Linked DNA regions of Homo sapiens. The protein of the gene in region 1 interacts with the protein of each later gene in a pairwise test. Each region holds a gene or a part of one and is shown in the gene's direction. Other genes may lie near its edges.

Region 1 (3,656 bases):
CCCAAAAATTTTGATTTCGCTTAATTTCGCCTAACAAATATCTAACATGTATATAGCACTTTATAGATTAAGTGTGTTACTATTTTCTGTGCAGTGGGCAGGAATTATAACTTCTACAGATGGAAAATGGTCTCTTATTGAGAAGTTTTTTGTCAAAAGATAACCGTCAAAAGGATTCATGTCCGGGTTTCATCACTGTGTAGTCCCATACTGTTTATCACTCCATCACAATTTGAAGGCTGTCTGAAATATCCATGAACTCCACTGGTAATTCATGGAGTTCAACTCTCTTAACCACCCTCCTCCCTGACCCATGATTTTTACCCTAACAGCCATGAGAGTTTCCAAAAATGTTATGTTTTACTTTTCTAGTGTATGTCAAAAGACATTTTGTACTGTTTTAAAATTACTATTCTTGCTATTCAAAGAATAAAAAGTATTGTTTTTCAGATGATGGGTGGATCATGCTATAAAATGGTAACAAAGTTTTGGAAATAATAGCTTTAGATTATTCCAAAAAGAAAAAAAAGAAAGCCTTTCTTGAGTATAAATTGTTTTTATGAGTTCAAGGTTACATTGGCCTCATCTTAATAATTAGCGATGATTCAGATATTTTGGAATAGCTTTATATTTTTATTTATTTTTCTTTTTGAGACAGAGTGCCACTAATATTGCCCAGGCTGGTCTCTTAACTACTGGCCTCAAGCGGTCTTCCCACCTCAGCCTCCTGAGAAGCTGGGATTACAGGTGCACACTACCAAGCGCGGCTTAGAATAGCTTTTTAGAAAACCTAAACTTTTTATGTTCTGCAACTCTCCTCATATTGAAACGTTCATGTCCAACTGTTTTTCACCTTTTCTAATGAAAGTATTCTCCAAAGAACAAATTGGAATGCTTCCAATTATAGTTGTTCCCCCTTATCCTAGGGGGACACATTGCAAGACTCCCCAATGAATCCCTGAAACTGAAGTCTGTATACACTGCCGAAGCCTAAGTATACCATGTTTTTTAGATCTAATAACCAAGATGGGCTGATAGCGTATACAGCATGGATACACTGGACAAAGGGATGATTCACGTCCTAGGCAGGAGGGGGCAAACTTTCATTTTGCTACTCAGAACATGCTCTTGCCCCATTTAAAACTTAGGAATTGGCCAGGTGCAGTGGTTCATGCCTAATCCCAGCACTTTGGGAGACTGAGGTGGGCGGATTACTTGAGGCCAGGAGTTTGAGACCAGCCTGGCCAACATGGTGAAACCCCGTCTCTACCAAAAATTAAAAATTAGCCGGGCGTGGTGGCACGTGCCTATAATCCCAGCTACTTGAGAGGCTCAGGTAGGAGAATCACTTAAACCTGGGAGGCGGAGGTTGCAGTGAGTCAAGATCACACTACTGCACTTTAGCCTGGGTGGCAGAGCGAGACTCCATCTCAAAAACAAAACAAAAAACTTACGAATTATTTATTTCTGGAATTTTTCATTTAATATGTTCGGACCTTAGGTAATTAAAACCACAGATAAGGGGGGATCACCCTAACATGAACGCTGTTTATTCTAGGAATGGAGAGCTGGTCACTTTACTAAGACAGTGCCGTAGAACAGAACTTGTTACTAATTCCTATGCTTAGGGCTTTGTTTTTTAATCACAAGATTCTAGCACCTCCCCTATCTTCCAGACTTGGATTTTGAACTTTAAAATTTTGAAGTAGTGTTGTGAATCAGTTGAATATTATTAACTTGTAGAATAATTTATGTAATTCCATGACTAGGTAACTGTATAATTCTGAAAACCTGAACAGTCAAGGCCATTTGGTTCACTTTGATTCTCAACTCCAGAATTAATATGAACTTTGATACAGAATCATTTTCTATTTCAGAAAGGCTAACCCTGTTTAAAAAGCATGTTAGCCTTACAACTTACCGTATATTTTCTACACTGTTAGTCCTAAAAATTTTATTGTGTGATGTGATTGACGTTAAACCTTAACATGGGAATGGGTTGTATGTGGGTTTTTTTGTTTTTTTGTTTTTGAGACGGAGTTTGCACTGTCACCCAGGCTGGAGTGCAGTGGCTTGATCTCAGCTCACTGCAAGCTCCGCCTCCTGGGTTCGCGCCATTCTCTTGCCTCAGCCTCCTGAGTAGCTGGGACTACAGGTGCCCACCATTATGCCTGGCTAATTTTTTGTATTTTTAGTAGAGACGGGGTTTCACCTTGTTAGCCAGGATGGTCTCAATCTCCTGACTTCGTGATCCGCCCTCCTCGGCCTCCCAAAGTGCTGGGATTACAGGCGTGAGCCACCGCGCCCGGCCATGTTTTTTGATATTCTGAATAAAAAGGATATAGCAGTTGGGATAGGCTTGGGTTCTTGTCCTTTATGTTCTTGTCCTTTCCTCATGATAATCAAATCATAATTAGAAATAAGATGCTAAGAATACAAAGGTGGCTCTATGTTAATACTGTATTGATAGGTCAAAGGAGAAAAAGCATGAGATCAATTCATTAGATACTGAAAAGTCTTTTGAGGGAATTTAATGTCTTCTTGCTTTCTTTATTAACAGAATAGGAATAAATAATAGCATAGGCATAAATTAAAAATAATGTAATTTTTTAAAATCTCAAACTAAAAATGGGAATCATACTTAAACATTAGCATTCCCAGGAGAGTTGGAGCAAGACCTCTGTGCCCACTATCACTCAACATTTCATTATTTAAGTCCTAGCAAGTGCAAAACAGAAAAGATGCATAAATATTAGAGAAGGAAAGTTATTTTTTGCAAATGGCGTATTTTTTATCTGGAAATACCAGAGAATCAAGTGAGAAACTTTGAAGAATAAAATAATTCAGTAATGATGCTTCCTACCCTAGGTTAATTAATATAAAGAAGAGTTAAATTCCTATGGCATATTTCTGGTAACAAAAACATCACTAAACTTTTAAATAAAACCCAAAACACTTCTAGTATTAAACATTTAAATGAGCTGGGCGCAGTGGCTCACGCCTGTAATCCCAGCACTTTGGGAGGCCAAGGTGGGCGGATCACAAGGTCAAGAGATGGAGACCATCCTGGACAACATGGTGAAACCCCGTCTCTACTAAAAATACAAAAATTAGTGGGTGTAGTGGCCCGCACCTGTAGTCCCAGCTACTCAGGAGACTGAGGCACGAGAATCGCTTAAACTGAGGAGGCGGAGGTTACAGTGAACCAAGATCGCGCCACTGCACTCCAGTCTGGCGACAGAGCGAGACTCCATCTCAAAAAAAAAAAAAAATTTAAATGATTTCTACTAAAAATTTTAAAAATTAGCATGCCTATGGTCCCAGCTACTCAAAGGCTAAGGTGGGAGGATCCACTTGAGCCTGGGAGGTGGAGGTTGCAGTGAGCTGTGATCACACCACTGCACTCCAGCCTCGGTGACAGAGCAAGACCCTGTCTCAAAAAAAAATTGAATGAATGTGAGCTGTGTATACATTTAAGAAAGATTAATAAAAAGATAATTATTTGCCTCCCTCTTCCAGTTCAGGGTCTCAATGGCTGGAGCCTTTCTTGGCAATTCAGAGTCCAAGTTGGGAACCAGCCCTGAACTGGACGCCATCCCAGCACAGGGTGCTCTCACCTACACCCACGCTCACAGACTGGGCCGCGTAGACACATC
Region 2 (3,656 bases), on another chromosome or scaffold:
GTTTGTCTATTGGTTGGTTTCTAGTCCAGACACATTTTATTTTCTGTTTTAAGTGTTATGAATTATTTTAATCCATGGTATGTCTTGAATATATATAACATTATTCCAAGATACTAAAAAATAAACTATTCTAAGAATTAGAAGAAATTGTATTCCGATACTGAGGTTGGGTGGGATACATGAAAAACCTATGATAATTTTTTTGTGTTCAGTGCTGTGTAATGTTTCAGGCTGTCTCCCCCTGCCCTTTTATTATTGCTGTTATAAAAGACTCTAATAAAGTCTTAAAGATATCAGAGCTCTTATTTTCAAACTGTCTTTAGTTCTCCAAATTATATATAGTCCAGTTAAGGGGAAAAACCTGTCTGTAATTTATCTCATTGAGTACCAGTGTCCTGATTTTGATGGGAAGTAATTCCTAACCTCTTCTAGGGTGTTTCTCAAATAGGATGGGAAATGTTTATCTAAACTTTCTAGTGGTGTTAATTGCAGCTGTGGGAAGAGCTGGAACTAAGGTTATGCAGTTTGGATTTTTTAGCATAGAATTTTGAAATTGTGAGATAAACTTCATGTATTAAAGCCATTACATTTTTTAAAACAAGCATGATGTGAAAGTTAATGTGGCCTAGATCTAGCCTTCCGAATCCTTAGATCATTTTACAGGAATGAGACGGAGTGATTTATAGGCAAATTAATGGTTCTCTAGAGCCATGTATCACATTGTCGTTGGTTGAGAAATCCCCATCATGACTGTGGGCCTAAAAAGTACAGGTCATTCTAGTTTAGAGACTAGTAGCTTTGATGAGCTGGAGATTGCACTTAGTAATAATAATGTTTGTATAAAATTCACAGTTTATAGAGTGGCCTTCTTGTCTCCCTTAATCCTCCCAAGAACTTTTGGGGTATAAAAACACCAAAATTAAGCCTGATGAGCAAACTGTGTGAACAAAACTTAGCAGGAGCCTAATTGGTAGTGCGTGGGTTCAAGCACACATGCTGCATTTTTCCTTACCTCATACTGCCTTTACACATGAAAGTTATCGGATAGTCATTGGAGGGAATACATAGAAATACACTGTTCTCTTCTAGGATTTTTAAAAATTAAACTTCAGAAGAAAGGGGTTATATAAACCTCAATTCAATGGAATTCTTAAAAACTTCTTAATTTTTACGTTGAACAAAAGTTTTGGTTTGTGTAATATTTCTTACCACCTTTTTCCTTCAAGTTGTCAGCACATAGTAGGTGTGTTTTCTTTTTTTGCCACTGGTCTTTTGTTTTTTTGTTTTTTTGTTTTTTTTTTGGTCATTAAATCATTTTGCTCTGTTGATTTTTGTTCATTTTGCTTGGCTGCTTTTGTGGGTACTACAGATTAATTAAAAGGTTATTTATTAACCCAGTGTCTATTGCTGTAATCTTTAGCATGACAAGGCCCTAACTGTTGCTGCATAGTTTTATGACATGAGTTATTGCCCTGATCACTTTTAGTTTTTTGTTTTTTTAATTGCCCTCCTTGTAAATCTTATAGACGTGTCATGTAGTGGGGTGTAATCGGTATATGAACGGTAGGGTAGATGGTATTAGATTCTAATTTAAATAAATGAATGCCTTATGTGGTTGACCTTAGGACTCTGCAAAAACTTAAGCAGTTCAGATGAACAACATGCCAACTCAAAAACTTTTATTGCTTGGGGCTTCCTGTTTTCTGGAACTATGTATACTTTCATACACATTTTAACTCAGCAGTTTTGACAAGGACATTACTATCTCTGTGTATAATTTCAGAATTTCCTTTTAATATTTGAGGTAGAGAAGAAAGAGTATTATTATATTCTGTGCTACAAATGGTGATTGTACAAAAGGAAGCTGATACTTGTTTCTGGCCAGTACATGAGGACACTTTAAGGCCCTAAATCTTAACTAAAATGGGCAGTCTTGATTCAGGATTTATTTTAAATATGGAAGCTTTTTCTTTAGTGAGATGTAGACTTTTTTTTTGGATATAAATGCCAGCACCTAGACCAAAGTTTTGTTTTGTTTTGTTTTTTTAAGATAGGGTCTCTGTTGCCTAGGCTGGATCTTACTGCAGCCTTGACCTCCCAGCCTCAAGCAGTCCACCCACCTCAGCCTCCCAAGTAGCTGGGACTGAAGGCTCACGCCACCATGCCCAGCTAAGTTTGTTTATTTTTTGTAGAGGCGAGGTCTCACTATATTGCCCAGGGTGGTCTCTAACTCCTAAACTCAAGCAGTCCTCCCACCTCAGCCTCCCAAAGTGTAAACCAAACTTTTTATTGCATGGCTTAATTGTACCCATTGACCATGAGGAAGAAGAGTCCAGCACCAGGAATGGTTGTAACACCTCCTACAGGAAAGGTACTCTAGTTAGGAGCTGCAGACTTTCGTGGTTTTGGTCATGCTCCACGCCGAAGTCCCGAAGGGAAAGGCATGGATCCTGCCTGGTCTGGCAGAGGCAGGAGCTAGGGATAGAATGCATCTTGCTTTGCAGCATACCTGTGAAACCAGGTTTTTTCTGACACCTGGTTAGTGAAATACTGAAGGGGAGGAGAGACTCTAGGGTTTACCTCCAATATTGCTGAGCAGGAAAAAGGCCTTTTGCTTGTGGTAGGTAAGTAAGAGGAATGGAGCTGAGTAACTTGATAACGAGGCAGGAATCTGCTTTATGATGTGAAAACATTACCTTTTAAATGTTTGTTTGGAGCAATATCGAAGTTTAATTTTAAATAATTTACAAAAAAAGGATAAACTGTGTTAAGCAACTATAATTTATAGCTTATTTTTATTAATCATGTGCTCAAGTAATTAAGCTTGTGCTTCACATGATGTTAGTGCTTGGGACCAAAAGAAAGTGATTAAATTAATTACTACCCAAATTACAGGTTTTAGTGCTAGAACTAGTACCTGGATCATTTTCTAATTATTTTAAAATGCTATGTCATTTGCCTTTTACCTTTTCTTCTGGGATGTTTTATTCCTGCTTGAGGGTATTTTGGGGTAAGTTTGTTTACAAACTTGTTAAGACGACCTGCTAGCAAAATCAGTACAGACTTGGCAAAAACAGACTTGTCTCCTATTCACAGCATTCAAGAGGGGGCAGAAGGAACCCTGTTTTCTGTAGCATGACATGCCATTTCTGTTAGGTGTGGTTTTAGAGCAAATGAGACAGTTACTTTACCAAAAACTAGGTACATTCAGAGAACTTAGGCTTTAAATACCAGTTTGTTGCTACTCTTGCGGAAGGGGGAATATTTAAAGGGATTCAATATCCTGATGGTTTAAAGTAAGTGGTTTACAAATTGTTCTGATAATGAGTGTCTAGGCAGATCTCTGAGGGGACCTGAAATCTGATGCAGCTCTCCTTTGTTCTAGGTTATACTACTCCAACTGCCCCCCAGGCATACAGCCAGCCTGTCCAGGGGTATGGCACTGGTGCTTATGATACCACCACTGCTACAGTCACCACCACCCAGGCCTCCTATGCAGCTCAGTCTGCATATGGCACTCAGCCTGCTTATCCAGCCTATGGGCAGCAGCCAGCAGCCACTGCACCTACAAGGTAAGGCCATGGTGTCCTTAATGCGTCAGTCTTATGTTGGAGGGAAAGAAAGCAACTGTGTACACTTAAAATAATCTGTGGTTT
Region 3 (3,656 bases), on another chromosome or scaffold:
ATGTCAATGAACCTTGCAAAATCCTGTTACTCAAAAATAATAATAGGATAATTAGCCTCTTGATTGAGTCTTCCATCTCACCCCATATTAAAGAAATAGTGGCTAGCATTCTCCTCATTTGGATTCCTGAAACTGGATTCTGTTTTTAAATTTCCTTGGAGGAGATTTTCTTATAATACTCATTCTTAAGTGTTTGCAGTCTTAGGCTAGTGAAATAGTACAATCTAATGACCTGCTCGAGAGTTTTCTTTATCTCACCCTGGGTAAGTTATTAAATAACTTTTATATTTTTTCTTAGATATCTTAATGCAATTCAGACAATGTGTCCACACATTCTTCGCTATTTGACTACAGCAGTCATAACAAACAAGGATGTTCGAAAACGTCGGCAGGTTCTAAAAGATCTAGTTAAAGTTATTCAACAGGTAAAACTAAAATATATATTGATTTTTTTTTTTAAATACCTAAGCTTTAGGTCTAACCTCTTTTTCTAAGGTAAGACTTAGTTCTTAAGGTACAAACGTTTTTAAAAATAGGTGGAAGGAATACTTGAAGTTTAGAAAAGAGAAGACCCTCAAATGGGCTTTTGTTTTCCTTAAGTCCAAGATACACAAGTTGGATGTGGTAGGAATGATTATTACTGTCTGCTAGATGAACACTTAATATATACATTATGTGTATGTGTTTCTCTTATTGCAAAGAGTGAAGAAAATCTGGAACCTGGAGGTGGGGGTCATTACCTGTGTAATTCTACATGGGTGAACTTTATATACAATACCGTTTCAATAGACCCCAAGTTGGGCAAAAGGTTTCAGGCAGCCATGCTGATTGATATTTAGTGAGCTTGTCAGCAAAACCCGTAGATTAGAAATATAACTTAAATATTTATTTAAGAGTGTATTAAATACAAAGAAGTTATTGTCATTCAGTAGGGAATGAATACCCTTATGATTGGGGAAGTTTATTACTGTTTATTGACCAAGGGAGACTTTTGGTAGTAGAGGAATTTGAAAGCTTTCAGAATGCTTCTAGGATGAGACTTTAGAGAACTTGGTTTGAAAGACATAATAAGCTTAAGGTGTGGTCTGGAATCAGGATAGGAACAATTGTTTTGGGAAGATGCTAGGTAATTTGGCTAGAAATTAATGGTAAAGAAGGAGAAAACAAGAAGATTGGGATATTCTGGGGCAATCTGCTAAACAATGTTGAATCAGACTTACCTTGACCGTTGACTTATTTTTACAGGAGTCTTACACATATAAAGACCCAATTACAGAATTTGTTGAATGTTTATATGTTAACTTTGACTTTGATGGGGCTCAGAAAAAGCTGAGGGAATGTGAATCAGTAAGTGTGAATTTTTATTTATAAACTAATACTATTCTTAAATTTTTGGATATTGTAACGTTAATCTTGCAGTGTCTTCCTTAAAGTAATGAAGTAATTATAACGGAAATATGCTTATTAATCTTAAAAAGGCCTAAATGGCTCATGTTTATTAACCTTAAAATGGCTTAAATGGCTTGTGTTTATTAATCTTAAAATGGGAATGTGCTAGAGTGATGACTTTTTTAATGTTGTTGCCATGTGTTTATCCCTTTTGTGAGGGAGTTTGTTAAAACATTGGGGGTAATTTAAATTTACAGACATATCCATAATTTCATGTCTTAAATCTCGAATGAATATTTTTAATATTTCATATGTACAGGCAAGGTCACTTTGAATTGCAAATAACAACTGTGTTTTTAATTTTGGTTCATAGATGGGCTTATCTTTAGAATATTTCCCATGGTTGTATTTAACATTTGTGATAAACCAGGCAATTCATTGTAATTACGAATTTTATAACGGCGGTGTCTCTTATTGTTTAGTAGAAATTAAAGTACCTTTAGAGCAAATGGAAGACTTATAGTTGTTTTGAATAATTAGTTTACAAGTTTTAAGAAACTAAACTAAGAATTCTAACTGCTAAATGTAGTTGCATTTACCAGATTCACAAGTTACTGGTTATCAGTTTCACCCTTGGAACCAAAATTTTGGCACAAAATGGGCAATTTGTTGACAAATATCTTACTTCTCTAAGGAAAAAAATGATCATGCAAATATCCATTCCCTGATGATTTTCTTATTTTATTTTTTTTCAGACAGAGTCTCACTCTGTTGCCGAGGCTGGAGTGCAGTGGCATGATCCCGGCTCACTGCAAACTCCACCTCCCGGGTTCACACCATTCTCCTGCCTCAGCCTCCCAAGTAGCTGGGACCATAGGCGCCCACCACCACGCCCGGTTAATTTTTTGTATTTTTAGTAGAGACAGGGTTTCACCATGTTAGCCAGGATGGTCTCGATCTCCTGATCTTGTGATCTGCCCACCTCGGCCTCCCAAAGTGCTGGGATTACAGGCGTCAGCCACCGCACCTGGCCTCCCTGATGATTTTCAAACATTAGATGGAATAGAAAATTAGAATCCAATATGGTAATTGGTGTTTTTTTTTGTAGTCATATATTGCATTATTAAGGTAAATATTGGCGTATATTCATTATGCTAAGTGTCTAGGTTTTGATGTTAAAAGACCTAGAGGGTACTTGGTTGCTGTTCTTGAAATTAAAATATTCTCTCTTAATTACACCATCTGTGGAATAGTAGCCACCTTTTGCATTCTTTTCCTTCTAATTTCTAAGTCTACTTAATATTGTAGAAATACTCCGAGCTTGTAGTCCATTTATAATTATTTTAAATAGTTGGAAGAGATAACATTATCTGCAGAGCATTTATGTAGAATAATGGATAGTACCAAACTTTGTTGTCAGAAGGCTACTTTATTAAAGTTATCAGAAACATTGCAGTTTTTAGGTCTTTATCTTGTGGTATTCGTTTACTACTTATTTAAATCATTAAAGATTTGAACACAGTGTTCTAGAAAGTGCTGTGGTATAAAACTCATGATTGTAGAATGGAAAAATAAAGCAGATAAAGTATTTGATTCACGTTTCAGGCAATTGCTTGTCAGCATCATTAATTTTTGTTGTATTTGTACATATAGGTGCTTGTGAATGACTTCTTCTTGGTGGCTTGTCTTGAGGATTTCATTGAAAATGCCCGTCTCTTCATATTTGAGACTTTCTGTCGCATCCACCAGTGTATCAGCATTAAGTAAGAACACCGTGATTTGATTTGGATTTTCTACTTTAAAATTCCTGGAAATTTCCATTTATTGTGAATTTACACTTAATAGAATTCCAGTTAATTGGATTTTTATTTATTTTTGCTTTCAGAAGAACAATGAAACAATTTGATAAAATTATTTAAAAACCTAACTTTTGCTACAGGCTCAGATAGTTTTAGCTTGAGTGGCATAATTTTTCAAAATACTAAGTTGAAGGCAATATATGATTATCAGTTACCTTATTGAAGAGTAAATACTCTTGTACCTTTACGTAAGGAGAAAAGTGTAGTAAACATTTCTAAAATGGTTTTCAACAACAGTACAAAGGAGATACCCATTAAATTGGAAATTCTGTTGAAAGACCACTACATTTGGTAATCCTTTCCATTTAGTTTGTATGATTTAATTACATATTTGACTTCTCCTATAGTAAACTCCTATGGCATCTTAAAATGTTGAAAGATGGAAAAATTATAGTGAATTTTAGTTGT

What was found.
Region 2: the proteins of MAPK1IP1L (region 1) and EWSR1 interact in binary tests that used the Homo sapiens proteins (3 or more experiments, as listed by UniProt).
Region 3: the proteins of MAPK1IP1L (region 1) and EIF3E interact in a two-hybrid assay, tested with the Homo sapiens proteins (one large-scale study listed by BioGRID).

Annotation. Positions count from the first base shown.
Region 1 is NC_000014.9:55,054,498-55,058,153, forward strand, and holds part of MAPK1IP1L (MAPK-interacting and spindle-stabilizing protein-like), read left to right. Parts: intron 1-3,656.
Region 2 is NC_000022.11:29,274,645-29,278,300, forward strand, and holds part of EWSR1 (RNA-binding protein EWS), read left to right. Parts: intron 1-3,385; coding exon 3,386-3,572; intron 3,573-3,656. UniProt on the Homo sapiens protein: Binds to ssRNA containing the consensus sequence 5'-AGGUAA-3'. Might normally function as a transcriptional repressor. EWS-fusion-proteins (EFPS) may play a role in the tumorigenic process.
Region 3 is NC_000008.11:108,214,103-108,217,758, reverse strand, and holds part of EIF3E (eukaryotic translation initiation factor 3 subunit E), read left to right. Parts: intron 1-298; coding exon 299-425; intron 426-1,245; coding exon 1,246-1,347; intron 1,348-3,042; coding exon 3,043-3,152; intron 3,153-3,656. UniProt on the Homo sapiens protein: Component of the eukaryotic translation initiation factor 3 (eIF-3) complex, which is required for several steps in the initiation of protein synthesis.